Regions from separate parts of the Homo sapiens genome. Here regions 1 and 2 are each linked to region 3. Evidence: fine-mapped QTL for protein levels in blood plasma. Region 3 holds a variant in brackets. A gene starts in each other region. All regions are shown on their reverse strands.

Region 1 (10,042 bases), not on the chromosome of region 3:
TCAGGAGGTAAAGAAATATTGAACAGAAATGTTTTGAGCTAAAAACTGCTTCTCGAGGCTGGGCGCTGTGGCTCATGCCTATAATCCCAACACTTTGGGAGCCTGAGGAGGGTGGATCACCTGAGGTCAAGAGTTTGAGAGGAGCCTGGCCAATGTGGTGAAACCCCATCTCTACTAAAAATACAAACAGGCCAGGCATGATGGCTCACACCTGTAATCCCAGCACTTTGGGAGGCCAAGGTGGGCAGATCACGAGGTCAGGAGATCGAGACCATCCTGGCCAACATGGTGAAACCCCGTCTTTATTAAAAATACCCAGCTACTCGGGAGGCTGAGGCAGGAGAAGTGCTTGAACCCAGGAAGTGGAGGTTGCAGTGAGCCAAGATTGGGCCACTGCACTCCAGCCTGGTGACGGAGACTCTGTCTCAAAAAAAAAAAAAAAAAAAATTAGCCAGGAGTAGTGGCAGGCACCTGTAATTCCAGCTACCAGGAGGCTGAGGCAGGAGAATCACTTGAACCTGGGAGGTGGAGGTTGCAGTGAGCTAAGATCACACCATTGCACTCCAGCCTGGGTGACAACAGCAAGACTCTGTATCAAAAACAAACAAAAACCTGCTTCTTGGGCTAGGTGCGGTGGCTTAAGCCTATAATCCCAGTACTTTGGGAGGCTGAGGTGGGAGGATTGCTTGAATCCAGGAGTTTGAGACCAGCCTGGGCAATATAGTCAGACCTCTGTCTCTACAGAAAATTTAAGAATTAGCCAGGTGCAGTGGTGCATGTCTGTAGTCCCAGCTACTCAGGAGGCTGAGGTGGGAGGATTGCTTGAACCCGGGAGGTGGAGGTTGCAGTGAGCTGAGATTGCACCACTGCACTCCAACCTAAGTGACAGAGGGAGACTCTGTCTCAAAAAATATACATAAATTTTTTTTTTGCAATTGCTTCTTGTCAATCTCAGCCCAGGACCTGGGTGACCTCTGCCATAGAGAAGGGAATGTATTAAGCCATTCTTCCTTTGCTATAAAGAAATACCCTGTAATCCTAACACTGGGAAACTGAGGCTGGAGGATCACTTGAGCCTAGGAGTTTGAGACCATCTGGGCAACATGGTGAAACCCTGTCTTTACGAAGAATTTTTTTTTTTTAAGATGGAGTTTCGCTGGGTGCGGTGGCTCACGCCTGTAATCCCAGCACTTTGGGAGGCCAAGGCGGGCGGCTCACCTGAGGTCAGGAGTTCGAGACCAGCCTGACCAATATGATGAAACCCCATCTCTACTAAAAATACAAAAATTAGCCGGGCATGGTGGCATGTGCCTGTAATCCCAGCTACCTGGGAGGCTGAGACAGGAGAATCACTTGAACCTGAGAGCTGGGAGGCGGAGGTTGCAGTGAGCCGAGATCGCGCCGTTGCACTCCAGCCTGGGCAACAAGAGCGAAACTCCGTCTCAAAAAAAAAAAATGGAGTTTTGCTCTTGTTGCCCAGGCTGGAGTGCAATGGCACAATCTTGGCTTACTGCAACCTCCGCCTCCCGGGTTCAAGTGATTCTCCTGTCTCAGCCTCCCAAGTAGCTGGGATTACAGGCGCCTGCCACCATGCCTGGCTAATTTTTTTGTATTTTTAATAGAGACAGGGTTTCACCATGTTGGTCAAGCTAGTCCCAAACTCCTGACCTCAGGTGATCCACCTGCCTTGGCTTCTCAAAGTGCTGGGATTACAGGCATGAGCCACTGCGTCTGGCCTTCTACGAATAATTTTTAAAAATTAGCCAGGTGTGGTGGTGTGCACCTGTAGTCCCACCTACTTGAGAGGCTGAAGTGGGAGGATCACTAGAGCATGTGAAGTTGAGGCTGTGGTGAGCCATGATTGCACCACTGTGCTCCAGCCTGGGCAGTAGAGTGAGACCCTGTCTCAAAAAAAAAAAAAAAAAAAGGAAGAAAGAAAAAGAAAAAAAATACCTGAGACTGGGTAATTTTTTTTTTTTTTGAGACAGAGTCTTGCTCTGTCACCCCTGCTGGAGTGCAGTGGCATGATCTCAGCTCACTGCAAGCTCTGCCTCCTGGGTTCATGCCATTCTCCTGCCTCAGCCTCCCGAGTAGCTGGGACTACAGGTGCCCGCCACCACGTCAGGCTAATTTTTTTTTTTCATTTTTAGTAGAGATGGGGTTTCACCGTGTTAGCCAGGATGGTCTCAATCTCCTGACCTCATGATCCGCCCATCTCGGCCTCCCAAAGTGCTGGGATTACAGGCGTGAGCCACCGCGCCCGGCTTTTTTTTTTTTTTGGAGACAGGGTCTCACTGTGTCACCCAGGCTATAGTGTGGTGGCATGATCTTGGCTCACTGCAACCTCTGCCTTAGCCTCCCAAGTAGCTGGGACTACAGGCCGACACCACCATGCCTGGCTGACCACCATGCTTGCCTGGGAGACTGAACAATTTATAAGGAAAAGAAGCTTAATTAGCTCATGGTTCTGCAGGCTTTATGGGAAGCATGGTGTTGGCATCTGCTCAGCTCCTGGGTAGGCCTCTGGAAGCTTACAATCATGTCAGAAGGTGAAGGAGAAGCAGACATGTCACATATCCAGAGCAGGAGCAAGAGAGGGAGGGAGTTATGGGAGGAGGTGCCACACACTTTTAAATGACTGGATCTCTTGTGAACTCAGTGACAGCTCACTTATCCCCAAGAGAATGGCCCAAGCCATTCATGAAGGATCCACCCCCATGATCCAGACACCTCCACCAGGCCCCACCTCCAACATTAGGGATTACATTTCATCATGAGATTTGGGTGGGGACAAATATCCAAACTATATTAAGGAGGAATATTTCCCTTTCTTTATCAGGAGTATAAAGTAGGAGGCATGGGGGATTCTCTCCCTGTTCTGTTCAGGCATAGGTTAAGGAAACACCAATTCCTTTAAACATATGCATCTGGAGTTGCCAATTCTGAGTATCACAGTTGTTAAAATATGACACAGTCCCTGCCCTCAAGAAATTGACAAGGTAGAAAAATAAAAAATGGCTCTTTTTGTTTCCATCCCTACAAGCACTCTGGTCTAGTAGTATATTCAGCAAAAGGAGCAAAAAGTGCCACTTCCAGCTCCAAATCAGCAGGTCGGGTGGTGGGGTCTGGCCAAGTTCACACACAGAATAATTAACTCCTGCATGCTACCTGGGATGATATTTATTCGATGCTTGCTATATGCCAGGTATAATGCTACACCTTTTTTTTTCTTTTCTTTTTTTTTTTTTGAGTCGGAGTCTCGCTCTACTGCCCAGGCTGGAGTGCAATAGCATGATCTTGGCTCACTGCAACCTCCGCCTCCTGGGTTCAAGCAATTCTTCTGCCCCACTGAGCCTCCCGAGTAGCTGGGAATACAGGCATGTGCCACCATGCCCGGCTAATCTTTGTAATTTTAGTAGAGATGGGGTTTCATCATATTGGCCAGGCTGGTCTTGAACTCCTGACCTCGTGATCCGCCCACCTTGGCCTCCCAAAGTGCTGGGATTACAGGCGTGAGCCACCGCGCCCAGCCTACACCTTCATTTAAATACTATACTCATTTAATCCTCACAATGTGAAATAGATACTATTATCCTTAATTTTACAGGTGAAGAAATGGAAGCACAGAAAAATTAAGTGACTTGCCCAAGGTCATCCAGCTAGTGTCGGCATTTGAATCTAGGCAGTCTGTAAAGCTTGTGGTCTTAACTATTTATTATACTGCTAACATCCTGGATTAGGATAGCAGCAGGAATTAAAGCTCAATGGAGAGAGAGAGGACTTGAGAGAAGGTAGAATCCATGTAATCTGACCATAAGAGGAGAAAATTGAGATTACAAGTGAAAGTGGAATAAGATACAGGGTCTTTGGGCATTTGAGTTGCAATCAGTGGATTGTAACACCCTCCCCGAGCAGGATTTGTGTCTTAATCATTTTGCACCTAGCATAAAGCTGGGCTCATAATCATTCTCAAAACACATTATTGAATTGAATGATGGATGAGTAACATCATCTCTGTAGAAAGGACTGGCTCATTTGTCATTGTCCACAAGGGGCAATGCTGCTTATCTAGCAGGTGTTGGCAGTCACAGAGGACATGGTTGGTGGAGAGGGTGTGCTGGAGGGCTGTCAATATTAGTCTTGGAGTCATATTTATTTGCAGAGCTTCTCCAATCCTCATTAAAGGCCCAATGATATGAGGCTCTCCACCCCTGTACCCAGACAGAAATATGCACCAGACACTTTATTTTCTCTCATGAAAAGGCTGGCCTGTTACAGGTGGGATTGGTCATTGCTCCCAGCCCGTCAGCTTGATACTGCATTCTTGGTCTATTCTGTGGGGACAGCCCTGGAATAGACACTGAGTATCTATCAGAGTAGGCACCCTGAGCAAACTTCCTTTCCCAAACCCTCTTCCTGCCCATAACATGATTTGGCTTGGGCTGGAGGAGGGGGAGGGCAGAGGAGACACCCCTTGACCACCTCACATCTTTGTTGGTTCATGGGTCTCAGCCCTTTCCTATCATCCCAAAGAGCCTGAAATTGTTACATTTTGCTTTATAAATTCCTTTCTTAAGTATTGTCAGTTTCAAAAAAAAAAACCCAAAAAACGATTGTCTGCCTGTAATAGCAGGTGTGAGAGAAAATGAGGTGCCTGGAGCATATTTCTCTCTGGCAATGGGGTAGAGGGCCTGACATCATGGGGCCTTTAATGGTAGCCCCCCAGCTTCATGTTCCCTCACCTTTCTGGAGAGGAGGGCTTGGGAAAGGCACATGGAGATAGGGTGGAGCTGGGGGAAAACAGGCCTTGTACAAAAGCTGAGTAGCCAGATGTTCACTTTTACAGCTCTTCTGTAAAACTGGCAGGGCAGATATAGATTAAAACGAAGGACAAACTCCATTTAAAGTGCATTACAGCTCAGGAACCAGCACCCCCTGGGCAGGAGAAGGGAGGGAAGGGCACAGAGGCCACATCAGTCTCCTTCCTTATCTAGGGCCACATGTCTCTCTCCTAGCTTTGCCAAGGGTGATTTACACCCCCAGCTGGAATGACTCTCTTTCTGGGCTGATTACATCGGCAAATGCCCCCCAGAGGCCACAGCAGGATGGCCATATTCAGAAGCAGCAGCCAATAAATCTCAGAGGTTTATATTGCGATTCTCAGTACTCCCTGCTGGCCCTCTGCCAGGCTGGCTGTGGAAGTAAGGAGGGGGTCAAGTTAGAGGGTTAGGGGATGAAACCCTCCACTTCCTTTCATCACCCTCTTCTCCTTCTCTCTTTCTATGCGCTGCTTAGTTCTCATTCTTCCAAGCCATTCTGCTTCTGGCTTTATCCTGGGATCTTGTGGGAATCAGGCCCAGGCCCAATAAATACCCTTATCCTTATGGGTAGACGTCCTGTGTTCTGGGCACAGATGTGTTTCTACCTAGTTGTTTAATCCTGATAGAGTAGCTTGCTCTCCGAAAGTCTCATCATGTGAAAAGGATGGGCTCCTAAATGGTCTCTCCAGGCACCTTCCTCAGTGAGCTTTGGTCCAAGGAAATCTCTGCTATTTAGTGGAGAGTTTAATCTTCCATCTTCCCTCACGACACCATCGGGGCTGAATTTTGGAATCTAATGCCCCAGGTCTGCTCCCCCAGCAAAGCCATTCCACCTGTCTGCGACCCATCTTTGCAGCATCTTGAGCTTAATAACCACCCAATCTTACCCTAGAAGACACTTAGGAGAGGAAAAAACGAGATCATAGATGTGCAAATTCTAAGAAAAATACTAGAAATGCAAGTGCCCTTGTGTTGGCTTGTTCAAGTTTTGTTACAAAATCTCTTTTGTGGTGGTGTCTGTTCTTTGATGTGTGGGTGAGTGGGATCCAGAAAGTGAGAAAGGGTGCTTTTCTTGGAGAAATATTTGGTTCTCCTAGATGGCGAGTTTCCAGCGGCAGCTTCCACAATGTCTTGCTAGTCGAACTTGTCAGACAGCAGGTGGGCCGCCTCGGAAAGAGCAACCTCTTCCGCACCAAGCCCGGCGGCTCCCGGGGCGCCGGCCCTCCCCCGCCCCCACCCCCGCGGTCCCTCGGACCAGCGCTGGAGGCGCGTGGTGTGGACGCGCGCTTCGGAGTTGGAGGGCGGCGCCCAGGACCCTGGTGGGAGAGTGTGTGCGTCGCGCTGGAGGGCGGGAGGCGGGGGCGGGAGGTGCCGGTCGAGGGAGCCCCGCTCTCAGAGCTCCAGGGGAGGAGCGAGGGGAGCGCGGAGCCCGGCGCCTACAGCTCGCCATGGTGCGCCCCCTGAACCCGCGACCGCTGCCGCCCGTAGTCCTGATGTTGCTGCTGCTGCTGCCGCCGTCGCCGCTGCCTCTCGCAGCCGGTGAGTGTCAGAGCGCGCACCGGCCGGGGGTACAGTGGGAGGGGGAGGTGAGGTGTAGGCGAGGCCCGGGGCACCTGTCCGGAGAGGGCGCAGCAGCCTCCCGGTGCATCCGAGCCGAACAAGGGGAACTGGAGCAGGAAGCCCAGGGTGCCTGCAAGGGGCTGGGGTCACACCTAACACAGTGTACGAACTGAGATAGACTGAGTGCCAGCAATGGCCTGGCCACCCAAGCATCTCCTCCTCGCCCCTTTTTCCCCCCTCTTCCCTCTTTTGAGGTAGGTCTACACAGTCACAGAACAACCCACAGCCAGGTCACTACCAAGACAGCGTCTCTAAGAGGCGGGGAGAATCAGATCAGAAACAGAGTGTCATTTGCTCCACGTGGGCTTTAACTCTTCCATCTGCTTTAAGGACTGAGGAAGAAACTAGGTACAGGTGAAGAAAAAGAAGTTCGTTAAAACTGACTTGTTTCATAACCTTCTACAATAGCAGGCCTTGCAAGCCGTCTAGCACAGTGGCTTGCCCCTTGGATAATAAATAATCCACAATAGATGTTTTGTAGATGTAGTTCAAGGCCTGGTTTTAGAACCAGGCCACTCCCCCAAGGAAGAACAGCCTGGGATCCGAGATCCCTGGAAGGCCCATGGCCTTCGTGAGTGGTATGGGTGTGTGGAATCTTATTATGCGGCTCCTGCCCAGAGACTGAATGGAGGGACTCCTGAGACAGAGAGACCACCACACTGCCCTGAGACCTCAGTCCACAACGCAGTGCTGTAGAAATGCTGCCTTGAGACAGATATGGAAGGAAGGAGGAAAAACCCTGGTCTGTCCACCTGCCAACATCAGTAAGTCAGGGCAGCAAGACATCACCAGTCTGATTTGACTGCCCAGGAAATTTCACTAATCCTAAAGGTTATGGCTGCATGTCAGGATCAGGGGAAAACATTAAACACCTTTCTCATTAAATGGTTTAATGAAGCAGTGTTGGTGACAGATCTATTTTCCACAGTAATACTTGACAGCAATGACATCTGGTTAAGTAGCCTCATTGAAAATCCATAAAACAGTCATCTAGGAGGTACCATGTAGAGCCAAGTGCTCTTCAAGAGCACAGACCAACAGAGGGCTTTGGGGGTGGAAAATATCATTGCTCAGGGCCTGCTAAAGCCAAGCATATAGGAGACCTCCGATTCATGGGGAAGTGGTGTCATGTACTGAAAATCATTCTGAAGTGGATAGGAGGCTGGAGTCCTGGGTTCTAGCCTTGACTCGGTCTTGACTTGCTACATCCCCTGGTGCACATTACTTTTCTTTGTTCATCCAACTATAAAATGGATACCTGGGTTGTGGGCCTCACTGATGAGAAACAAATGAGGATCTTGTGCCCTGAGGCATAGCCTGATCTGACCCATTCTGTAGCTACTCATTCTCTGATGAGCCAAGAAGCAGAAAACAAAGTTACAAAACCAGGTTGCTAACAAATCAATATGAAATAGACGTGGCAGTGGCTGTATAAATGAGGAGGTGGGGCAAGTAATAGAAAGTGGTATGGACTATAACAAGCTGGAAAAGGCATGACTTGTCAAAAGGGGGCAGTCATTACTCCACCCGTTACATGTGGGCCCGAGTGTTTCCATTTTTCAAGACAAATTGGAAATTAATAGTTTTATTTGAAATCTGATTTTTTTTTTGAGACAGGGTATCAATCTGTCACCCAGGCTGGAGTTCAGTGGTGTGATTCCAGTTCACTGCAGCCTCAACCTCCCATACTCAAGTAATCCTTCTGCCTCAGCCTCCCCAGTAGCTGGGACTGTAGTAGTGTGCCACCACACCTGGTTAATTTTTGTATTTTTTGTAGAGACGGGTTTTTGCCATCTCGGATGCCCAGGCTGATCTTGAATCCTGGGCTCAAACAGTCTGCCCACCTTGGCCTCCCAAAGTGCTGCAATTAAAGGTGTGCGCCACCGCACCCGGCCTAAAATCTGATTTTTAAATGTTGGCCACTAATTACAACTTTAAGAAAATACTGGCTGGGTGCAGTGGCTCACACCTGTAATCCCAGCACTTTGGGAGGCTGAGACGGGTAGATCACGAGGTCAGGAGATTGAGACCATCCTGGCTAACACAGTGAATCCCCGTCGCTACTAAAAAATAGAAAAAATTAGCCAGGCATGCTGGTGGGCGCCTGTAGTCCCAACTACCCGGGAGGCTGAGGCAGGAGAATGGCGTGAACCTGGGAGGTGGAGCTTGCAGTGAGCTGAGATCGCGCCACTGCACTCCAGCCTGGGTGACAGAGCGAGACTCCGTCTCAAAAAAAAAAAAAAGAAAAAGAAAATACTGTGAACGTGCAAAAAAAACCAACCAAACAAACAAATAAAACAACCAAACCACACACACACACACACACACACACACACACAAAAAAAAAAAAAAAAAAAAAACAGAAAAGAAAATACTGCCGGGAATGGTGGCTCACGCCTATAATCCCAGCATTTTGGGAGGCCAAGGTGGGTGGATTGCTTGAGCTCAAGAGTTCGAGACCAGCCCGGGCAACATGGTGAAAACCCATCTCTACAAAAAATACAAAATTAGCTGGGCGTGGTAGTGCATGCATGCAGTCCCAGCTACTTGGGAGGCTGAGGTGGGAGAATTCACCTGAGCCTGGGAGGTCGAGACTGTAGGCTGCAGTGAGTGGCGATTGTACCACTGCACTCCAGTCTGGGTGACAGAGATTAAAAGAAAGAAAAGAAAAGGAGAAAGGAGAAAGAAAAAGAAAGGAACGGAACTATGCTGACTAAAAAAGACACATTTGCACACTGGATCAAATTATGACCTTTGCCCTGGATCAAGTCCTGTGTTTCACAATCCAGGAAACACAGGTTCCACCTTGTTGAGATGAAATTTAACGTGGCCCCCAAGTTCTTTGTTGAGATGAATGCCCCTAAATCCATCACTGCTCAAACTTGGTAAAGTGTCAACTAAGAAATTGTTTTCTTTTGAAAATGTTTACAACTCAATAGTTAGTACAGTTAAATATTTATGGCCGGGCACAGTGGCTCATGCCTGTAATCCCAGCACTTTGTTGAGGCCGAGGCGGGCAGATCACCTGAGGTCGGGAGTTCAAGATCAGCCTGACCAACATCGAGAAATCGCATCTCTACTAAAAATACAAAATTAGCCAGGCATGGTGGGGCATACCTGTAATCCCAGCTAGTTGGGAGGCTGAGGCAGGAGAATCGCTTGAACCCGGGAGGCAGAGGTTGCAGTGAGCCGAGATCGCGCCACTGCACTCCAGCCTGGGTAACAAGAGCAAAACTCCACCTCAAAAAAAAAAAATTATTTTTAGTCCAGTTACAACAATAGAACTTGAATCTGCCACTTTTCTTTGTGTACTTACCACTTATTCAGTACCTACCGGAAGTAACATCGTAAACTTGTAGAAATTCCTCAATCTTTTTAAATCCATGTTCCCCTTTTGGTAAATATATAAAATCTCATACCTTCCTTAAATACTTTTTGAAATCTCAAAAGCTTTTTTTTTCATCTTGTACATGTAAAATTATCAAATATGCTTTTTGGAAATACATATTTCCTAGAGAAATTCTGATATACTTTTTCTTTTCCATAGGTTATTGGGGTACATACAGGTGGTGTTTGGTTACATAAGTAAGTTCTTTAGTGCT
Region 2 (10,046 bases), not on the chromosome of region 3:
AGAGTTAAGAATATAAAAGGAAAGAAGTGGAACATAAGATGTTACCTGAGAAAGAAACTAGTAAACTTTATCTTGTTATGGATTTCAGGCCAGACCTTAAAAAGTAACCTCAACTCTCATAGCCTCAGTAAGTAACTTCCTGTGTAACTTAGTTTTAAATATACAGAAAAGCAAAAAGGAGAAATGTCTCTTTTCTTTCTAGTTTTTAATTGGCAACTGCTATTGGAGGTTTTCTTTCTCTTTAAGCTTACACAGCAGTACAAAAAGCTACATGGATCACAATATCTTGGTTTTAAGAAAATATATAAAACAGATACATAATAGAAAAATATTTTACTAGAAAAATCTTTCTGCATAATCTTTTTGGAAAACATTACTCTTTCCACAGGTCTTAAATTGTTTTATAGTTTCAACCACAAATCAAAAATGTCCATAAGAACTTGGACAGGCATTGGTAAACGGACATAAAAGCAAAACAGATTTGATTGATTTATGTTCAGTCACTCCTCCTTAGCACTTAAAAAATTAAAGCTTAATCATGCACATAGAAGGAAAACAACGCTTACTCTTGGGAACATCCTCCTTGAATATTAAATTAAGGCAACAAAAGGATTTTTTAAGTTAACCTGTATTTGTGCATTTAAAACATATTTGAATTTTTTCAGTGGTTGTTTTTGGCCTTGAAACATTGAATGTCACCAAAATATCAGAGAATTCCAGAACTCAGAGGGTTAAGAGGAAAGGTGTTATTTCAAATGCTAGGTCAACAAACTATTAATAACAAGCAAAATCTACCACCACTGTGTCTGTCATCTGCTTGATTATCATAATGCCGAGCCTGGTTGGTATTTACCAGTTTCTCCTTGGCTGAAAGAGTGGTAAAGAGCCCAATTGTTGATCAATTCTCAGTAATACAGAAGTGAGCTTATCTGCACATTTTCCTAAGGCCTTGCTATGAACTGAATATTTGTGTATCCCCAAATTCACATCTTGAAGTCCTAATCCTCCATCTGATAGTATTTGGACATAGGGTTTTGGCTAATTATATCATGAGGGTGGAACCTTCACGAATCGGATTAGTGATCTTAAACAAAGAAGAAACAGGGGAGTGAATCTCATTCTCTCTCTCTCTCTCTGGCTCTCTCTGCCATGTGAAGATATAGCAAGAAGGAGCCCATCTGCAAACGAGAAGAGGGTCCTCTCCAGGAACCAAATCAGCTAGCAGCTTGATCTTGGACTTCTCAGCCTCCAGAATTGTGAGAAATAAATGTTTGCTGTTTAAGCCACCCAGTCAATGGTATTTGATATAGCAGCCTGAGCTAAGAATGATAGTTTAAGGTGTGTTCATCTGGTGTCCCAGATGAAGATGTGTGTGGGGGTGAGTGGGAGTAAAGAAGAAGGAATGTAAGAGAAAATTAAAGTATATGGGAATTTTGACAAGCACTTAGTAGGTGAAGAGTAAATCAGAGAGTCATAAAGTATTAGATTTGGGATGTAACAAGCCCTTCCTTTAAAGGTGAGGAAATGGGCACAGTATATGAATTGAATTGCTCATGATCACAAGATGACTTAGAAAGATGAGGAGGAAGATAAGGCACAAGAAGTGAAATTATAATTATATATTTTTAAATGTTGAGAAGATAACTGGTTTGTAATAGAGTCTTGTTTACTTTTCTTACTTGACATTTGTCACAAATTTATATTTATGGCCGATCGCAAAATATTTACAGCAGCAAGCTCTAATATGACCTTTAGGGAAGTCTTAGAAACAAGCTGAAGATTGGAATGAACTATAAGACTCTGGGACAAAGTCAGGGATGTATAATAATTTTACACTGAATTCTGAGTTCAATGTGTTCCTTTCTCCAAACAGCAGCATTCTGTCACTCATTATGTCAAGACTCTCCTTGAATTCTGTTAATAATGGAAGAAATGAAGAGGAGAAGGGGATATGAAAGAGCATCACAGGACAAAGCCATCTCTATATTGGGGTTACAGCTTCAACCAAGGGAAAGTGTGAGAGATCTGGAAGGAAAACAAAAGAATATGGGCCATAGCAAGATATTGTTCTCAAGGGCATAATGACCTCTATGATCTCTCTCAAGTTGGAGAAGTTCTAGTCCCATTTCACACTGTTCTAGTTTCAGGTAACAACAATGAAAATTGAACTAGCTTAAGGCAAAAGGGGACATGAACAACTAACCCACAGGAAGAGCTTGAATATTCTCCAGATCCATCTGAGATTTTGATTCTTTCAAACAGTAGCTTCATTCTTACCACGGCCTGGTTATTCCTATATAGAAGGAAAGAAAAACTAGATGTGGAGTTTTAGATCTCAAAAGCTATCCATGAAAGACTGGATATAAACTCTTTATTTCATTTACAAAAACTGCCAGATAAAGGACTCAGTGGAAGTCCCATCCAATTAACAGTGAGCAAGGCATTTTACTTGGTTCAACTTGGTGTTTTGAGTGATCCAACTTAGAGCCAGGGAGTGGGAGTTGTTGTAGCACGGAGGTAGATCCAAGTTAAACATGTAGAACTGAGGAAAGGGCTGTTTCTGGAAAATGGGCACTCAGCAGGTAATTCCAGGTATTCATCCGTGGCTTGCTAAGTAACACATTGTGTTACCCACATAATTTTTATGCAGGTTCTGAGTAACAGCAACACATTCTAGTTAGGTCCCCTAATAGGGATTTATTATCAAGCTATATGGAAAAGTAAAGAAATACAGAGATTCATCTTGGCCTCTAACAATCCAAGTATCATGTCCTTTCTACATCAGCTAGTAAATATTCCCTACTCTGGTATTTGTTTCTTATAATGACTTAGATGAGATGGGAAGCAAATGAGGGTAGACACTGAAATAACTGATTCTTGACTTGAGCTCATGGCTTCTTTCTCATCCTTTGGCTTGCCCATACAGGGTACTACCTTCCTGTCTACATTTCAAATTATCTGAGCTGGAATCTGATTGGGTAGACAAGGCACCATCAAATATATCATGCTTTTTTTGGCAAAAGCTTTGATGTCAAATCATTTTATAGGCTGCTGTTCAGATACCCATCTGTGGCCACATATCTAAAATTGTTGTTTCAATGTTAGAATGAGTAAAATGGGGATCAAGGCAGAACAAACAGAATTAGAGGGAAACTGTGGGTATGTTGGGTAATGTAATAGGTGAATCCTTGTATGGGCTGTTTAATATCCACAAAAATATATACTAAGTGTTTTTTTAAACCAATGAATATTAATGGAAAATCCTCCTTTGTCAAGAATTATTCTAGAAGATATGGGTGAGAGCAGGGCATATAGAAGATATTCTGTTATAGAAAAGCTATAAAATTGACAGGGGAACAAAAACTAACATAATTGGCACAACTATAAAAAAATCCAAAATATTCAGGCCATGAAGTTTTTGCCCTACAATTTAAGCGAAAATATGCAACTCATTTATTCACTTTGTCTTTTTTTTCTTTTTCTTTTTCTCTCTTTTTTTTTTTCAGAGATAGGGTCTTGCTCTATCTCCCAGGTTGGAGTGCAGTGGCATGATCATAGCTCACTGTAACTATTAACTCCTGGGCTCAAGCAATTCTATCCCATCTCAGCCTCCCAATAGCTAAGACTACAGGTGTGCACCACCATACCCAGCTCATTAAAAAAAAAAAAAAAAAAAGGTAGAGTTGAGGTCTCACTATGTTGCCCAGGTTGGTCTGGAACTTCTGGCCTCAAGGGATCCTCCCACTTCAGCCTCCCAAAATGCTAGAATTACAAGCATGAGCCACCACACCTGGCCCATTCCTTCACTTCGTGCAACATAATTGCCATCAGAAACCAGACTTTTTTTTTTTTTTTACTACAGAGACTTAAACTTTTACAAAAGGAAGATGTTTTTCTCATTTAAATTGTCATTCTAGGGACAGAAAGTAAGTTTTGAAAAGAAGTAGCTTTTATGGAAGAGAGGTGCCTGAGAATTTCAAAAGGATTTAAGACAAGGGGAATGAGAAGAGATTGAATGAAAGAAGAGAAAACAGAGAGAAAGAGTAATTAAAAAAAAGAAAAGAAAAGAAAACAAAGATAATCCCAAAGAGCAGTGTGCACAGTTTTGCTGCAATCAGTACCATTCTGGTCAAGTCTCCGTCATCTGCTCTAGGCTTAGTTCCTCTCTGCCCTAGGCTGCTTCTGGTAAAACCGCACGCTCAGCTTGTTGGGCGTCTTCATGGAGCCTGTTATTTGCTGTGGGTCTAAGAAAGGGAAAGCTTCAGGCTTCAGGCATCTGTACCTCCTATCTGTTCTCAGCTCCATGGAAATTCTTAAGGGATGGGGCTATAGATAAGAGAGTGGGAAATGGAGATCAAGGTCTCAAATGAAAGGCAGGGTGGTTTGATTTTTAAGCTCCCCTGATACTTTTTATTTATATATTTGCTGCTTCTAGAAAAACCAAAAAAGGAAAGTGATTCATACATAGAATGCCTGTACAAATAGCAAACCAATAACTACCCCCAGCAGATTCTGGCCCTTGCCAGGGTGCGGTTTCAGAGCTGTAAAAGGCAAGGGATATGTACATTGAAATGACCCAGTCCCAGAATATTTTAGATTCAGAAAAGGTCAGAGACTTTCGTAACTAGCAATGACCTCCAGATTAGGGACCATGAATGTGCAGAGTGAGGACAAGGAAGGGGCCTAAAGCTGGGTCTACTGTAGAATAAACAGAATCATTTAAGGTTAATTATGTTCTGATGTGGCCTCCTTAAATTCTTTCAGGCTGGGGACAATTTCTAGCCCTTTAAGATCAAATCAGTGGCTTTGGACTAGAATCTGCTTAATAAGAATGAACTCCAAAGGTGAAAAAAAAACATAAAATCTAAAAATCAAAGGATATGCCTTTATAAATGTGAAAGTTTAGTTTGGCTCAATGTTGGTCAGTTTAGAAATGTGGGAGTAATCGGAGAGATGGCATAACTGGGGGCGGGAGGCGGGGCGGTGATTATACCCCTACCACTACCTAATCCTCAGGGGCTACCAGTTACTTGCTGTACACACTTTTAAAGTACTTTCTAATTGTGGACCATGAGTGGCAGAGTACTGCGGGCGGAGGCTTTTTGCTGAAAGCAACATTGACTTTTATTTCTAGGGAAAGTCTTGTCTGTAGATGAGCACCGTGGGGCAACGGAGAAAATGCTGACTTTCTTGTTTAAAAAAAAAAAAAATTTCCGTAAGCGGCCCTCCAATGGTCCGTCCACTCAGCAGGCCAGCTGTCCCAGGCCTCTGCCAGGGAGGGAAGACGAGTGCTTCAGTGCATGGCTTCGGTGAGCCCTTTAAATCCAGCTTCCCCTGCCCCCACCAAGAGGCTCCCTTTCCCTGACAGGTGTTTTCCCAACTCCGGAGGCCCAGGATTTTGGGGAGTGGCTGAGCCAATAAGATTTCCCTTTGGAAGGGGGGGGGAAGGGCGTGGCTAGTTGGGTCAGAGCATGGGCGGGGTTTGCGCGGCTGAGCAGAGCCGGCCTGGTTGCGTGGAGGGTTGTTTTATTCCCACCGCCCCCCGCACCTTTTTTTTTTTTTTTTCTGGAGTCTTATTAATTTCTCTGTGGGCTGCAGCTGGAGACCGCGGAGCGCTGGAAATGACGCTCGGAGCTTTAATTACCGCAGCCGCCGGACAAGTGTGAGGAAAGCTGAGAGGAAAAAGAAGGACGGGATCCGGGGAGAAGCGAGAAGCTCCCCCCGCCCCGCTCCCCTCCCGATTTGGACTGGAGGTGCAAGGAAACTGAAGAAGGAGCAGAACATAGCCCGGCTGCGGGGAGAGGCCGGAAACCTACCGCCTCTTTGCAATCAACTTTTTTTGGAAACCTTTCGCCCCCCTTCCTTTTTTATTGTTGACCAACCAGTGAGAGAGAGAGAAAGTGAGGAGGGAGCGAGCAAGCGAAGGCTCACGCGGGGAAATAGCTGCACAGTCCGGCCCAGAGCGCCAAGCGCACACACCGAGCACACTCCCACACGCGCACACACGCGCTCACACTCGCCCCCTCCTCGGGCCCCGGCCCTGGACCCGCGGGCGCGGACTCGGTCGCCCGCCCTGGGAGTCGCCACACCGCGCGCGCCGCGCCCGCCCCCCTCGCACCCCCACGCGCGCCCGGCTGGGGGATCTCCTCCGCGTGCCCGAAAGGGGGATATGCCATTTGGACATGTAATTGTCAGCACGGGATCTGAGACTTCCAAAAAATGAAGCCGGCGACAGGACTTTGGGTCTGGGTGAGCCTTCTCGTGGCGGCGGGGACCGTCCAGCCCAGCGATTCTCAGTCAGGTGGGTTCCTTCTGGCACTCCGGTCGCCGAACCTGCAGCCGCCGGCGGGGCTGCCTCGAGTGGCTCCCCTGCCCTCTTCACCCATCCCGGGAGGCGTGGAGGGACCGCTTGACCGGGGCCTCTTCCCTGGGCTTTCGGTCACCCCTCTTTCCATTTGAAACTTACCCTGTATGTGTGCGTTTGCTTTATTTATCGTGAAAAATCACTCTGAGTCCCTCTTTTCTCTCCTTAACCCCCTGCTTTTCTTTCCCGAGCGTTTTGTTTGGGAGCCTAAGCGGGATCCCTTCTGGTGGCGCCTGTTGTTCGGGACATGGGAGACCCAAATCCCCAGTCAGAGGAGACTCTTCTGTCCCTGTCGGGTCCCCGAGGGCAGAACCCGCACCGCCGGGGCCGCGGTCCTGGGGCGGTGCTGGCTGGGCCTCTCCCGAGCCGAGCCCGAAGGGCGGTGGAGAGCGGCGCTCAGAAAATCGGGCTTTGCACCTGTGTGTGCTGCTGGCGACCGCTGCGCCCCCAGTCGCCCGAGCCTTGTGGCGTCAGACGCAACTCGCGCCCAGCCCGGGCAGCCGGAGTGCAGCAGGCGGGCGCGCCTCGGTCCGGGGCCCGGAGTTCTGGGCCTCTTCCGCCGGCTTCCCGGAGCCCTCTCCCCATTGACTTGAGGGGCGCTTACTCGCCTGCCTGACCTCTTAAAAAAAAAAAAAAAGGCTTGGCACACTTGAGCCAGAAGCCCGGCCTTCCCGTCGGTTGCCGTGTTTGGCTCCGGGAAGAGTTCTTCCTGTAGTTCAACTTGCTATTGGCCGGAGTCCTTCAAACTTGTCTGTTTACTGCCCGGCCAGGCTGCCGAGCCTGCGGGTCACTGGATCCACCCGAGGCGAAAGCGGCAGCGGCGATGGGTGCGCGGCCACTGCTTGCTGGAGAGCTCGAGCCCCAGGTACCTGGGCAGGCAAAGGGCTAATTGACCCCGAGAGGCAGCGCGGCGGGGCTGGCCCGCCACGGCTTGCAGGACTAATGACAGCACCTGCAGTGCAATGGAGCTCAAAGTTTCTGACACTAGAGTTTCCTGGGGATGAAAGTGGGACGGGAGAGGTCTGAGGAGGACCGGTGTCTTGACGTGGCCAAGGGGTGCCTTTTGGAGAGCCAGAGAGATTTCCGAAACCATCCAGGGATGGTGACTGGAGCGTGGGAAGTAGCTTGAGGTGATAAAGCCCCCGGGAGTGGCGATAGGGAGCGCTTTAGGCCCCCGGAGGGTGTCCTTCTGACCTCACCAAGAAAACGGCTAGCTGTAGTTTTCCCGCTCCGCCGCCGCCGCCGCCGCCGCCTCCTTTGCCTAGTAAATAACAAGTTACAATTATCGAGTCTTTCAAAATGACCTTCGAATGGCACATGTGAGGCGTTTGTGCTGGCCGTTTGCACCCTCCCAATTACTCCGAAATTCTTCACGCATACCAGGTCCCGCGCTCCAGCCACCTCCGGAATCACACCAACACGGACTTGACATTCCAAGCGGCCTCTTAGATACATCTCTTTTTATCTCCCTCCCCACTTCGAGTCCCTTCATATTTTCCCTCAATGGGTTGATTATGCACATTGACCCATTCAAAGGCATTGGCGACCGACATGCAGGCTTAGCCGAGAGGAATTTCTACGAGGCGACCTACTGGGGGCTGTCTGGTTCAGCCTCTGCCACTGGGGGACCCCGCTCCGAGTCCGCAGCAATTTGGTATTAACTGTGCGGCTCCGAGTTGAGCTATGCCGAAAAGCCCTTTTCAGAATTTCTGCAAGGAATGTAATCCAAATTAGTTCTGCAGCTGTCCTCTTCCTCGTCTCAGGCGACACTAGCTCGCGCCCTCGCTTCGTCTCTTCTCGTTTCCCTGGGCGAATTGTCAGACCCACAAGTGAGCCCATTTAGAGCGCGAGGATTAGCGTGCCATTGTTGTTCCGTGTGTGACTCTGTACTTGAAATTCTGGGGGCACAAAGGCGAGCCTCACTTGTTCAAAACACAAAGTGATCCAGATGAAAGGGCCGCACAAAGAAAAGCTCTCGGGTGCATCCCTGGTATAATTGCAACACGCATACTAAGGTGATCCATTGGAAACTGTAAATGCCCCGGGGGACTTCGTTTTTCATCCTCCCCCACCCCCACCCTGCCGCACCTGGCAGGGAAAGTTCAGCTGGTTTTAATGCAGTGCTATTATAAAAACAAGTTACTGTCTGGGGTATGAGTGAGGCTGTGTGTGTTTGTGCCTATGTATGTGTGTGGCTGTGTGTTCCCAACTAAATACATATTGCGCGTCTCCCCTCTCGCGGTTAGCAGTCAGTAGCAGTTTGGAGGAGTTTGTTTTGGTCCAAATGAGAAATTAAGTGCGGATAAGTAAACTAAGCTGCCAGAGGGCGACAAGATGTTGAGTGAATTGCTTTTAGATGAAACAAATTAAGGAAACGAGGGAAGACAATCTGCTTCTCGCATTATTAGACACGCTTGGAGTTCAGGGGAAAGTGGCATATTTTTGAAATGCTAATTTCTTAAGCAGAAGGAATGCACCTTATTTACTGCTCTATGTGAACAGAATAAAAATATAGGGCGGGGGATGCTGTTGTATAGATCTTTAAGATATTTCTTAATTGTAACAGAAGAGAACCTCTTTTTTCTTTTGCTTGGAAAAAAATTCAGCATTAGAGAGGATGTTTTTTAGAAATTCTAAAGGACTTTGTCTCATTTTCAATTATGCATTTTATTTAGATATATCTAGATATAGCCAAAGTCCCTTTATATGGCAATTATAAAGCCTTTGCTAACCAAAGGAATGGTTCTAAAATTCGTCTTCCTTGTATAATGGAAAATTATCAATATTGCCTTGGTATTGAAGAAAATGTATAGTAGCATTGAGGTGGTACTCTTATATACCTTAGTAGATAAACGATGAACAAGTTCAGTTCCCATTTCTTTTTTGCAGGTAACTCAGTCTTGCTTTTCATTCTATAAAAGTACATATAGCTTTCGTACATATTTAAGATACATCATTATATCTCCAAAATCATGGGGTTATTTTTCATTTGAGAAGAAAAATGTTAATAAAAGTTAAGTGGTGAAAAAGGTGTTAAATATATTTTCAAGAAAGCATCAATTCTCTTTCTTACAAGTGTTTACTGTAAGCACATCTATCGGTACAATGTTTTCTTTTTAATTTGAAATTCTCATATATATATATATAAAAGGGGGCTTTTTAGAAGAAGGTGTTATTTTTTTCTTCACAATATGTCTAAATAAATATCTGTTAGTATAACTGCAAATCGCTTGGAAATACTATAACTGTTCTGTTGTGATGAAATGACTCCAGTTATATCAGTATTCCTTTTTTTTGCTCTTAAACTCAACTGCTTTTATTTATTTTAATCATGTATGCATAGAAAGTGAAATTTTGTTGAAAATCAAGGCACTTACTGCTTTATATATATATTTTCATTTAGTCACTGGAAATGTGTCTTAATTAAGAAATTACATTAGAATATTTATCAGAGCATGAACTTTGTGGAAGATTTATGCATTTTTTATTCTAACCTGAACACAGTAAGTTTGCATTGGCTGATTTTTAGAGTTTGCATTTATTTGATGGAAAATCGTATTTCCTCCTCAAAGTGGATTCAAATATGTAGTATTCATGAGCTTTCATCCCTTTGGTTTTTAAATAGAAGTACTATTTATCATCTGTCTTATGCATTCACCCTTTCTGTTACTATAGATTCTCT
Region 3 (9,942 bases):
GTTTTCATGTCCCTTTTCCCTGTTGTGGAGAGTGTGGAAGTAGGTGTGATGGAACCTCCAGCAACCTGGATATGTGTATATCTCAAGGAGCAGATATACCTCCCCTGCCAGCTCAAGTAGGACATATGGTATGAGTGGGAAGACCTTTGCTATGTTAAGCTATTGGGTTTGGGAGGAGTTTCTTAGCACAGCATAACCTAGCCCATCCTAACTAGTACACATACCAATATCACCTTAGATAGGCCGAGTCAAGTATGGAGACCATATTTCTACAAAGTCAGGATCGTAGCCTGTCAAAGATCTAATGCTTAACTCTGGGGTCTTCTTCAGTAGGAAGGAATATCTTCTTGCAAAAGTAGGGTGGGATTCCTAAAGATGTGAACTCTTCCTCCCCTTCTTTTGCTAGTCCCTGTTAAGTAGAGAACTCTGATTCACCCATTTGCCATTGTGTCCCTAAAGTCTAGCCCAGGGCCTGAATTAAGAATTAAGAATACTTAATTCTTAATTCACACACAATGGGATTTACTCTGAAGTTCCTTTCTATGAATCTTCCTGTAGATCACATCCAAGAATATGCCATGAGCCTTCCTCCCCTCCCTAAGCCCCTCCACACACCCCTCTGCCTTGAGCAATTTGTTAATTTCTCCTTGACCTAAGCCTCAGGCTGGACAACTCACAGCCTCCTTCTCTGCCTGATCTTGACAATGGCACTGCATAGGAGCTTCCCTGTTATCAAAGTCATACTCACGAATAATAATCTTTATAACTCTCATGATGAAACATTTGAAAATCAGAGGCAAGTGGTAAAAAACTCATCCATGATCTCCTCACCTCGAAGGAACTGCTGTTGACACTGTGACCTTTCCTTTCCTATTTTCCTCTGTGCATTCCCCCTCCCCCCATACTTTTAGGGAGAGCCTATGAATGTCTCCTATTTAGGAGGAGAGGGAAAAGCCACCCACAAATGCAGAAAATGGCACAGCTGGAAGGGGACTTACGAATCCTTCAACCAACTCCCTTACATTACCATTGAGAATGCTGCTTTATACTAGTCTGGGTGCAGATGTGTGAAAAGTAAAAACAAATATCTGGCAAGACCCAAACCAAGCTAAGTGATTGTTGTCTCTGGGGTTGGGGGACTAGAAGGGTGGTGAAAAGATACTGTCATGTTTTGAATCTTTTGCAACAAAAATGTATTCAAGTGTTACTTGCATTTAAAGCACATTATTACTAGAAGAAAAGAGAAAGCAACTTTTATGTCAAGGGTTTCATGGCTATTATTGGCATATTGGTTGAGGCCACTAGTTTCCTGGGTATCAGTCAGTCTCCTCCTAGTGTCATTGCCCCTTGGTCAAGTGTCCTCAAGGAAGAGATTCATTCCAGGGCAGCCCATTTTTTCCTACAACATGGGCACCCAGATGCCAAGATGGCATGGGAAAAAGGAAAATTCTGCAGGCCCCAACCTGAACCATTAGCCCACAAGTCCAATCTCTGTAAGACCCACGCTGGGATCAAATGCCTTCAAGCCCAGACTCAGCCCCATCAGAGGGGGCAGTAGGTGCTCTCAAGACGAAAGGGATTCTTGGTGAATCAGGAAAGTTATTGGGCTGGAAAGTGATTAAAGGGCTGAGCGTGGGAGGGGATTTCCACTGAGAGAGCCAGGCCCAGGAGCAAGCCTGGGCGGGTCGGCTGCAGAGTTGCTGCCCACTTGAAGTCTGTCGCAATGGTGCCCATAAAACCCAAGTCATCAGAGACTTGAAACCTTGGTAGGGTTTTTCCTTCTGTTTCCCTTTAGAAAAACAGAGATCCGAGGAAACCCCAAAGTCCTGGAACAAAGGGCTGTACATCAAAGCGGTGCGAGCAGGTCAGGAGAAGTCTGAGGGAGAGGTCAGCTGGAGTGGGTCTCCCAGCCCCCAGCTCCCAGGGAGAGGAGAGCAGTGAGGGACCTGTGGATTGGAGGGTGGGTGCAGAAGCCTGAAGGGAGAAGCAGGGTGGGGAGGAGCAGGGCTGTGAACAGACCCATTTTCATGCCCCATCTAGGTGAGGAGGCACTACCTGGCCTGAGGAATCCAGGGAACAGGTTGAGGAAGGAGTAGTGATGTTTTCTTTTCTTGCCTATACAGGGGTTACATAGCTCCCATAAACTAGCCAGGCTTTTTTTTTTTTTTCAAATATGCACTGAATCTGCAAGATAGAACTTGACAGCCTTCATTTTACAGATGAGGAAACTGAGGTCAGAGAGAGGAAGTGATTGTGTAAGGTGTCACCAAGCTTAGGCTAGGACATGGGTGTCCTGTCTCCTACCTGAGTGCTCCTTCCCCTACACCAGTGGTTCTCACACGTGGGCGTCAGAATCACCTGGAGGGCTTGTTCAAACACGGATTGCTGGGCTCCAAACCCGGGTCTGGGGTGGAGCCTAGAATTTGTATTTCTAACAAGTTCCCAGCTGATGCTGACTCTGCTGGCCTGAGACTACATTTTGAGAACCGCTGCTCTAGACCCTTGCTATCTAAAGTATGTTCTGTTGACTAGCAGCATCAGTGTTACTTGGAAGCTTCTAGAAGTGCAGAATCTCAGGTCCTACCCTAGACCTATTCCATCAGAATCTGCATTTGCAAGATCCCCAGGTGATCCATTTGCACACTGCAGTCTGAGAAGCGCTGGTCTATGCCACACACCTCTTTCTGGACTGGGGGTCAAATTGAGGCAGCCTAGATGAGCCTTCCAACTCCAGTTGCCAGGGGATAATGGAATAGGTGCCCAGGGTCCTGTGGGGGAACCAGCCCCTTTTTTGTGTTCCCCAAGGTTGGGGAGTTCTCTCCAGAACTACAGAGACAGGAGGGGCTGCATGCTCAGCTCTGGGTTTGCTCGGTTCTAGTGTACACACCCGACATCAGGAGGCTCTATGTGCCCACCTTGGGGAATCCTGGGAATGCCTGGAGGCCAATAACTGCCATTCAAGCCTCTAAATCAACCCCTGCTCTGAAGCCAGCCCTTGCGTTTGAAATTCTATTTCAAGAACTTATGTAATACCTATGTGTTTATTTTATTTTAAAAATATGCCTAATACATGAGTATGACATCCAAACCATATTGAAGCATGCTCATAAAATGACAGGCATTCTCACACTGCCCATCCCCATCCTGGACATTCCATAAGTAACATATCACTGTGAATTGAATCCTGTTAGATATAACCTGTACAACAGAGGTGGACTTTGTTCATTGTGGCCATGCTATATACCTTATTAACTCACTGTACTGTAATGTTTCCCCATGAAACAACGTATTTCAGGCATCTCAACCTACTAAGACCTGTAGATCTGTGTATTTTCAACTGCTGCACCGCATGAACATTTATGTACTGTGCAGTTAACTAGATTTTTAGAGAAGCAATGCATGCACAGGATTTAAAAAAATCAAACAATACAGATTGGTGAACAATGAAAAAATAAGTCTCTATCTTTCTTCTTCATTGTTACCTAGAGAAACTGTTAACAATTTATTTTAAATTTTTATTTACTTTTCTAAACAGGGTCTTGCTCTGTTGCCCAGGCTGGAGTGCACTGGTGTGATCATAGCTCACTGTAGCCTCAAACTCCTGGGCTCAAGCCATCCTCCCACCTCAGACTCCTGAGTAGCTGGGACTACAGGCATGTACCCCACTATGGCTATATTTAAAAAATGATTTTGGAGAAACAAGATCTTACTATGTTGCCTAGGCTGGTCTCAGACTCCTGGGCTCAAGCGATCCTCATGCCTTAGCCTCCTAAGGTGCTGAGATTACAGGCAAACCATTTATTTTTGGTATTTAATTAAAATACTTAATTTTTGTAATAGTTTTGGATGTATAGTAAATTTGAGCAGATAGAACAGAGTTCCTGCATACCTACCCTTCCCCCATAGTTTCTCCTATTATTAACATCTTGCATTAATGTGCTACATTTTTTACAATGAATGAGCCAAGATTCATACATTTACTATTAACTGAAGTTCATGGTTTAAACTCACTCTTGTTGTATGGTTCTGCAGGCTTTGATAGATGCATAACGTCACGTATCCACCATTATAGTATCATACAAAATAGTCTTGCTGCCCTAAAAATCTCCTTTAACCATCTAGTGGTTTCCATTGTTTTAAATAATGCAGTTACATTCTTTTCATTAGTTCATTAACTCTAGATTGCATTGATTGTTTCCCCTCCTCTGCATTATCCTTTTCCACCTCCCAGTTTTTGTCAGGTACATTGTCATTTCATTTTCTCATTCGATAATTATTCATTCAGTTCCTACAGTGTATTAGGCAATGTTCTAGGTGCTGGAGCCACAGGGGTAAAAAAAACAGATAGGCTGGACGCGGTGGCTGACGCCTGTAATCCCAGCACTTTGGGAGGCCGAGGCAGGCGGATCACGAGGTCAGGAGATTGGAACCATCCTGGCTAACACAGTGAAACCCCGTCTGTACTAAAAATACAAAAAGTTAGCCGGGCATGGTGGCGGGCGCCTGTAGTCCCAGCTACTCAGGAGGCTGAGGCAGGAGAATGGCGTGAACCCAGGAGGCAGAGCTTGCAGTGAGCTGAGATCGCGCCACTGCACTCCAGCCTGGGCGACAGAGCGAGACTCTGCCTCAAAAAAACAAACAAACAAAAAACAAACTCCCCGCTGGCATAGAGCCCACAAGTAAAGGAGATAGACAATAAGTAAGAAAAATACAATTGTGGATGCTAATATGTGCCATAGAGAAAAATTGAGCAGGGACGGGATACAGTGTGTGTATGTACATCTATGGAAGGGGGTTGTGGCTTTAAACACAGTGTTGGGAGAAGACCCCATTGAGAAGGTAATACGTGAACACAGCTTAGTGTGGTGAAAAAATGAACCATTTGGTGATCTGGGAGAGAGGATTCCAGACAGTGAGGACAGCAGGTGCAAAGGCCCTGAGGAAGGATGGTTGCCAAGTTCAAGGGATGGTGAGGACTGTGGCTGGAGCCAGGGATAGAGGAAAGTACAGGAGGTAAGATCAGAAAGTGAAGAGCAGGTCTTAGAGGGCCTTGCAGGTAGCATCAATGACTTTGGCTTTACTCAGAATGAGATGAGAAGACTCTGGTGGCTTTTGAGCAAAGGAGTGATATCATCCTTAGTTTTAAAGTTTTTGCAGTGTTAATGTACGTCTTGTTTTGTTAATAAATTGTCTTCAACACTTTTCTTTAGATTGAGTCTAACAATTTATGAAGAATTTATATAAGATTAAGTAGACAGCCAGGCGCAGTGGCTCATGCCTGTAATCCCTGCTCTTTGGGAGGCTGAGGCTGGTGGATCGCCTGAGGGCAGGAGTTCGAGACTAGGCTGGCCAAAATAGTGAAACCCCGTCTCTACTAAAAACACAAAAAATTAGCTGGGCATGATGGCAGGCGCCTGTAATCCCAGCTACTAGGGAGGCTGAGGCAGGAGAATCGCTTGAACCCGGGAGGTGGAGGTTGCAGTGAGCCGAGGTCGTGCCATTGCACTCCAGCCTGAGCAACAAGAGCAAAACTCAATCTAAAAAAAAAAAAAAAAGAATTAAGTAAATATAGAAAACAAAAGCTATGTTACTTTTTGCATCTCTCTGGGTCTCATTCTTACCTCTAACCCGCCTTATTCCCATCTTTCTTTCCGCCTTGTCCTGGGTAGCCACCCAGAGGGACCCCTCCTCTCCACTTGGACTTCCTCCTTCTCACACAGGTGTGGAGGTGGTGTGGCTCAGCCCTAGCTAGAACCATTTCCAGCACATTCTTCCCTGGGGCCATTTTGTAGTCTAGCCTGTTCCAGCCGGACTTGGATTTACTGACGGTGCAGATCTGCTTTCTCTTTGGGGTGGGCAGAGGGAGAAGCCAGCTCTGGGCTGCTACCATGGGACATTTTGTCCATCAGCCAGATGTGGAGTTAACAAGTCAATGATAATTGAGTAAGTGATGGGGCGCGGTGGCTCACGCCTGTAGTCCCAGGACTTTGGGAGGCTGAGGTGGGCAGATCATGAGCTCAGGAGTTCGAGACCAGCCTGGCCAACATGATGAAACTCCATCTCTACTAAAAATACAAAAATTAGCCAGGCATGGTGGCAGGCGCCTGTAATCCCAGTTACTCGGGAGGCTTAGGCAGGAGAATCACTTGAGCCCAGGAGGCGGGGGTTGCAGGGAGCCGAGATTGTGCCATTGCACTCCAGCCTGGGTGACAAAGTGAGACTCCATCTCAAAAAAAAAAAAAAAAAAAAAAGAATTGGGTAAGTATCTCTAGGGCCCAGCACTGCTCCAGCCCAGTGACTTAACCAAGAAGTTTAAGTCAGAGCTCCTGTTCCAGGGGATGGGTAGGGATACCTCAGCAGGAAGGGAGGAGCAGCACCAGCCCTCTCTGCACGCTGCTCCCCTGGCTTTTGAGTTCTTCTTGATCCTTCTGATGGCCCAAATAATCCAGCCTGGGCCTGAGCCTCTCCCAGATGTGGCTACCAGGCAAGATGCCAGTTCTAGGGAAAGATTTGGAATGAATCATCTCCCCTAGTCCCAGAGGTCTTGAGATTGGAGGACAGGATTCCAGGTTCCAAGGACCCATTCAGGCCTCCAGGAAGACGTTGTCGTGTTAGGAACTGGATGCTTAGCTGATGAAGACCCTTCCAGCAGTAGAGTATGTCCTGCTAAATTTCCTCCAATGGCCCCCCACCCCCATCTTTATCTGCTCACTCTTGCTATCCAATGTTCCCTTCTCCTGTGTCCAAAAGCCCGCTACCTCGCAACTCAGTAAGCTGAAGAGAAAAGTATGGGTGACTGGATCATTTTTAAAGGAACTATGTGGACTCAGATGTTCATGTATGGGCAGTATGGGTATGTATCATCAAACGATCCTGGGCCCTGTTAGCCACCATGCATTCTCATCTGGACTTTGCCATTTTCAAAGCCATGTGACGCCATTTACATTATCTGACCTCTCTGGGTCTCATTTTTCTCATCGGTAAAACGCCCACAGTGATAATAATATCTGTCTATCATGAGCATCTACAACATGTGAGAGGGCTCTGTACGAAGCCCATACAACTGTGAATCCACCTGGAACTGGAAAGAGCATGAATGAGTCCCAGACCCAGTGTGGGGAGAAGAGGAACTGGTAGAGATAAAACAGCAGTGGCCCACGCATGTAATCCCAGCACTTTGGGAGGCCAAGGCAGGCGGATCACCTGAGGCGGGGAGTTTGAGACCAGCCTGACCAACATGGAGAAACCCCGACTCTACTAAAAATACAAAAAATTAGCCAGGTGTGGTGGCAGATGCCTGTAATCCCAGCTACTTGGGAGGCTGAGGCAGGAGAATCGCTTGAACCTGGGAAGCAGAGGTTGCAGTGAGCCGAGATCGCACCGTTGCACTCCAGCCTGGGCAACGAGGGCAAAACTCCGTCTCAAAAACAAAAACAAAACAAAACAAAAAAATGAGTTAGGGGTAGAGCCTGATCTAGGGCCCTGTTTCCTCAGAGAGAGAACTTTGGATCATGGCAGGACTGTGCCAGGTTGGTGCACCCAGGAGACCCCTGTGGAGTGGTGGGGAGGAGCCATGGGAGGGCAGGGCTGGCAGGCAGGCTGAGACCTTGTGGGTCCCTCAGGTAGGGCCGTGGCCACCTCGAGCTCCCTCTTCTGCTGCTCTCTGGGCCTCAGGAGACACCTGTCTTTGTCTTTTCTTTAATGCCACTGTCTATTCCCTCTCCTGGAGGGGCATTCTGGGAGTTAGGAGTTAGTTGTCGTCACACGTGTGTGTGTGTGTGTGTGTGTGTGTGTATAAAGAGTTATGGATGAGACACTGACAGTTCCCTTCTCTCATCTCCTAACTTTGGGACTGCAGAGGAGCGCACTCCTATCCCCACAACAGGACCTTCCCTGTATCTGTTAGGCTCTGCTCTTTGGGCAGGAGGATGGCAACACAGGGTGTAAGTACAAAGAGGTCTTATTACTGTCATTATTATATATCATTACTCCCGTAAGAATCTATTATTAACATGTTGATGAATAGACCTTTAAGAAACTGTGGGCCTGGAGGAACTGATCAAGATGGGGACAGAATGAGGACCTAAGAGAGCCCTCTTCCAGTGCCTGGCTTAATCTCAGGGCCCCCATCATTCTCTAAAGGGAATAAGAGTGGGGAGAGGGGAGGAAGAACATTTCTTGAGACTCAAGAGTTGTCAGGTCCTGTCTTGGGTCTTTCACAAATGTTATCCAACTTATTCATCAGGACAACCCCATGAGATGAGAATAAATTAATCCTCCTATTCGACAGATGAGGAAATTGACGGAGGTCAGTAAAGTTGCCCCAGGTGGGCAGGACACAGCCAACAAGGGAGAAGAGGTTTGAACTCAACTCTGCAAAGCTCTTGTGTTTACACAATATTCTAGCCAGAACAGAAAGAGACCTCTCCCTCTGCGTTCCCCTCCAGCTCTGTATGCGGGAGAAGTCCATTCTTGGGGAAGGCCGAGGGAGGACAGAATCTGCGGAGCGGAAGGAGCAAGGTTGGAGCTGCGCTTACACCTGGGACTGGCTGTGCCATCGGTCCAGCGTCGGCGCCTGCAAGTGTGCGGTGGAGAGGACTGCAGACAGTGGCATCCCCAGGTCACGGAGGGGGTCCCTCCTCCCCCACTACGAGGAGGGCATGAATGACCTCAAGCCTCAGCTCTCCTTTGTTGGCACTGGCTACTCTCTACAGGCCTCCCCGCGCAATGCATGGGGGTAGGAGTAGGAGCAGGTGAACTGTCCAAGCAGAGGCAGCGATGGACAGCCTCTCTTGGGTGCTGCACAGAGAAATCGGGCGATGGAGGAGGAACCCAACATGGGCTTGATGCAGAGGCTGGGGGCCCCATGGCGTGCCAAGTAACCAGCAGCTGTCTGACGCCTAACATGCAACTGGTGCCACTGCGCGTTCGCCAAGCAAGCCCACCCCCTTGCTAGCAGCGCGCTCTCCAATCGAGGAGATGCGCCTTCCCCCTCCCTTCCCCGCCATCTCCCCCTTCATTCAAGGCCTGGGGGAGCTGCGGTTCCGAGAAGCGGCAGACGGCAGCCAGAAGGCTTGGGCTGTTGAGTAAGCAGCCCCCTCTCAGTCCCGGCCCTCCCCGCCCCGCGCCCTGCGCCTCCAGTGAGTGACTGAGCCCCCGCTGCGGCCCCGCCCCCGGGGCCCTGCCGGAGCTGGTGCGCGGCGCGGAGGGGAGGGCCGGCCAGGGTAGGAATGCGCTGCGGGCGGGCGGCGCAGGAGGCGAGCGGCGGAACATGTAAGGGCACATCCCGCGAGCTGCCGCCCAGCGCGCAGACAGAGCCCAGGGGAGCAAGAGAACGGGCGGGCGGTGGGGCTCACGGCCTAGGGAGGCGCGGAGGCATCTGGCAGAGGCGGGTCGGGCTGGGCCAGCTGGGGTAGAGCGGAGGAGCGGGTGCCGGCTGAAGCGGGGCGGTGGGCGCGGAGCGCGCTGGGGGCACCGACACCACCTCACCGGCAGCCGGGTGCTGAGGGCCGCGGTGTGGGTGCGCGGAGCAGTCAGGGCGCAGGTGGGCAGCGCGCACGGCCTGCCAGCCCGGGGCGCCAGAATCCTGCGCTGCGGGGCCGAGAGGGGCGCCGCGCCCGCCGCAGCCTGGAGCTTTCCGCGAACCTCGGGGCGCCCATGACGGCGGCGGCGACGGCTACCGTGCTCAAGGAGGGCGTGCTGGAGAAGCGCAGCGGCGGGCTGCTGCAGCTGTGGAAGC[G/A]GAAGCGCTGCGTCCTCACCGAACGCGGGCTGCAGCTCTTCGAGGCCAAGGGCACGGGCGGCCGGCCCAAGGAGCTCAGCTTCGCCCGCATCAAGGCCGTGGAGTGCGTGGAGAGCACCGGGCGCCACATCTACTTCACGCTGGTGACCGAAGGGGGCGGCGAGATCGACTTCCGCTGCCCCCTGGAAGATCCCGGCTGGAAC

Alleles and levels. Alleles are on the strand shown, and positions count from the first base shown. The strength of an association depends on the size of the effect and on how common the allele is.
For the plasma level of the protein whose gene starts at base 6,072 in region 1, allele A in region 3 goes with a higher level than allele G (weak association).
With allele A in place of G in region 3, the plasma level of the protein whose gene starts at base 5,948 in region 2 is higher (weak association).

Evidence for each region. PIP is the chance, under the fine-mapping model, that this variant and not a neighbour inherited with it causes the effect. The UK Biobank Pharma Proteomics Project read protein levels with antibody pairs (Olink). The fine-mapping took linkage between variants from a reference panel, not from the people measured, so its PIPs are less certain.
Region 1: it holds the start of GFRA3, and the variant in region 3 is fine-mapped to the plasma level of the GFRA3 protein (UK Biobank, PIP above 0.99).
Region 2: it holds the start of ERBB4, and the variant in region 3 is fine-mapped to the plasma level of the ERBB4 protein (UK Biobank, PIP above 0.99).

Annotation. Positions count from the first base shown.
Region 1 is chr5:138,270,651-138,280,692 of GRCh38, reverse strand. GFRA3 (GDNF family receptor alpha 3) reads left to right here and starts at 6,072. Exons shown (of 8, transcript NM_001496.4): 1 at 6,072-6,359. The coding sequence starts at 6,269. RefSeq lists silencers at 5,980-6,069, 6,160-6,349.
Region 2 is chr2:212,534,704-212,544,749 of GRCh38, reverse strand. ERBB4 (erb-b2 receptor tyrosine kinase 4) reads left to right here and starts at 5,948. Exons shown (of 28, transcript NM_005235.3): 1 at 5,948-6,301. The coding sequence starts at 6,220. RefSeq lists an enhancer at 6,917-7,417.
Region 3 is chr1:201,468,502-201,478,443 of GRCh38, reverse strand. It overlaps PHLDA3 (pleckstrin homology like domain family A member 3), which reads left to right and starts at 9,256. Exons shown (of 2, transcript NM_012396.5): 1 at 9,256-9,942. The coding sequence starts at 9,658. RefSeq lists silencers at 8,987-9,216, 9,427-9,736 and enhancers at 9,237-9,356, 8,871-9,585, 9,807-9,942. The variant G/A (reference allele first, on the strand shown) is at 9,740.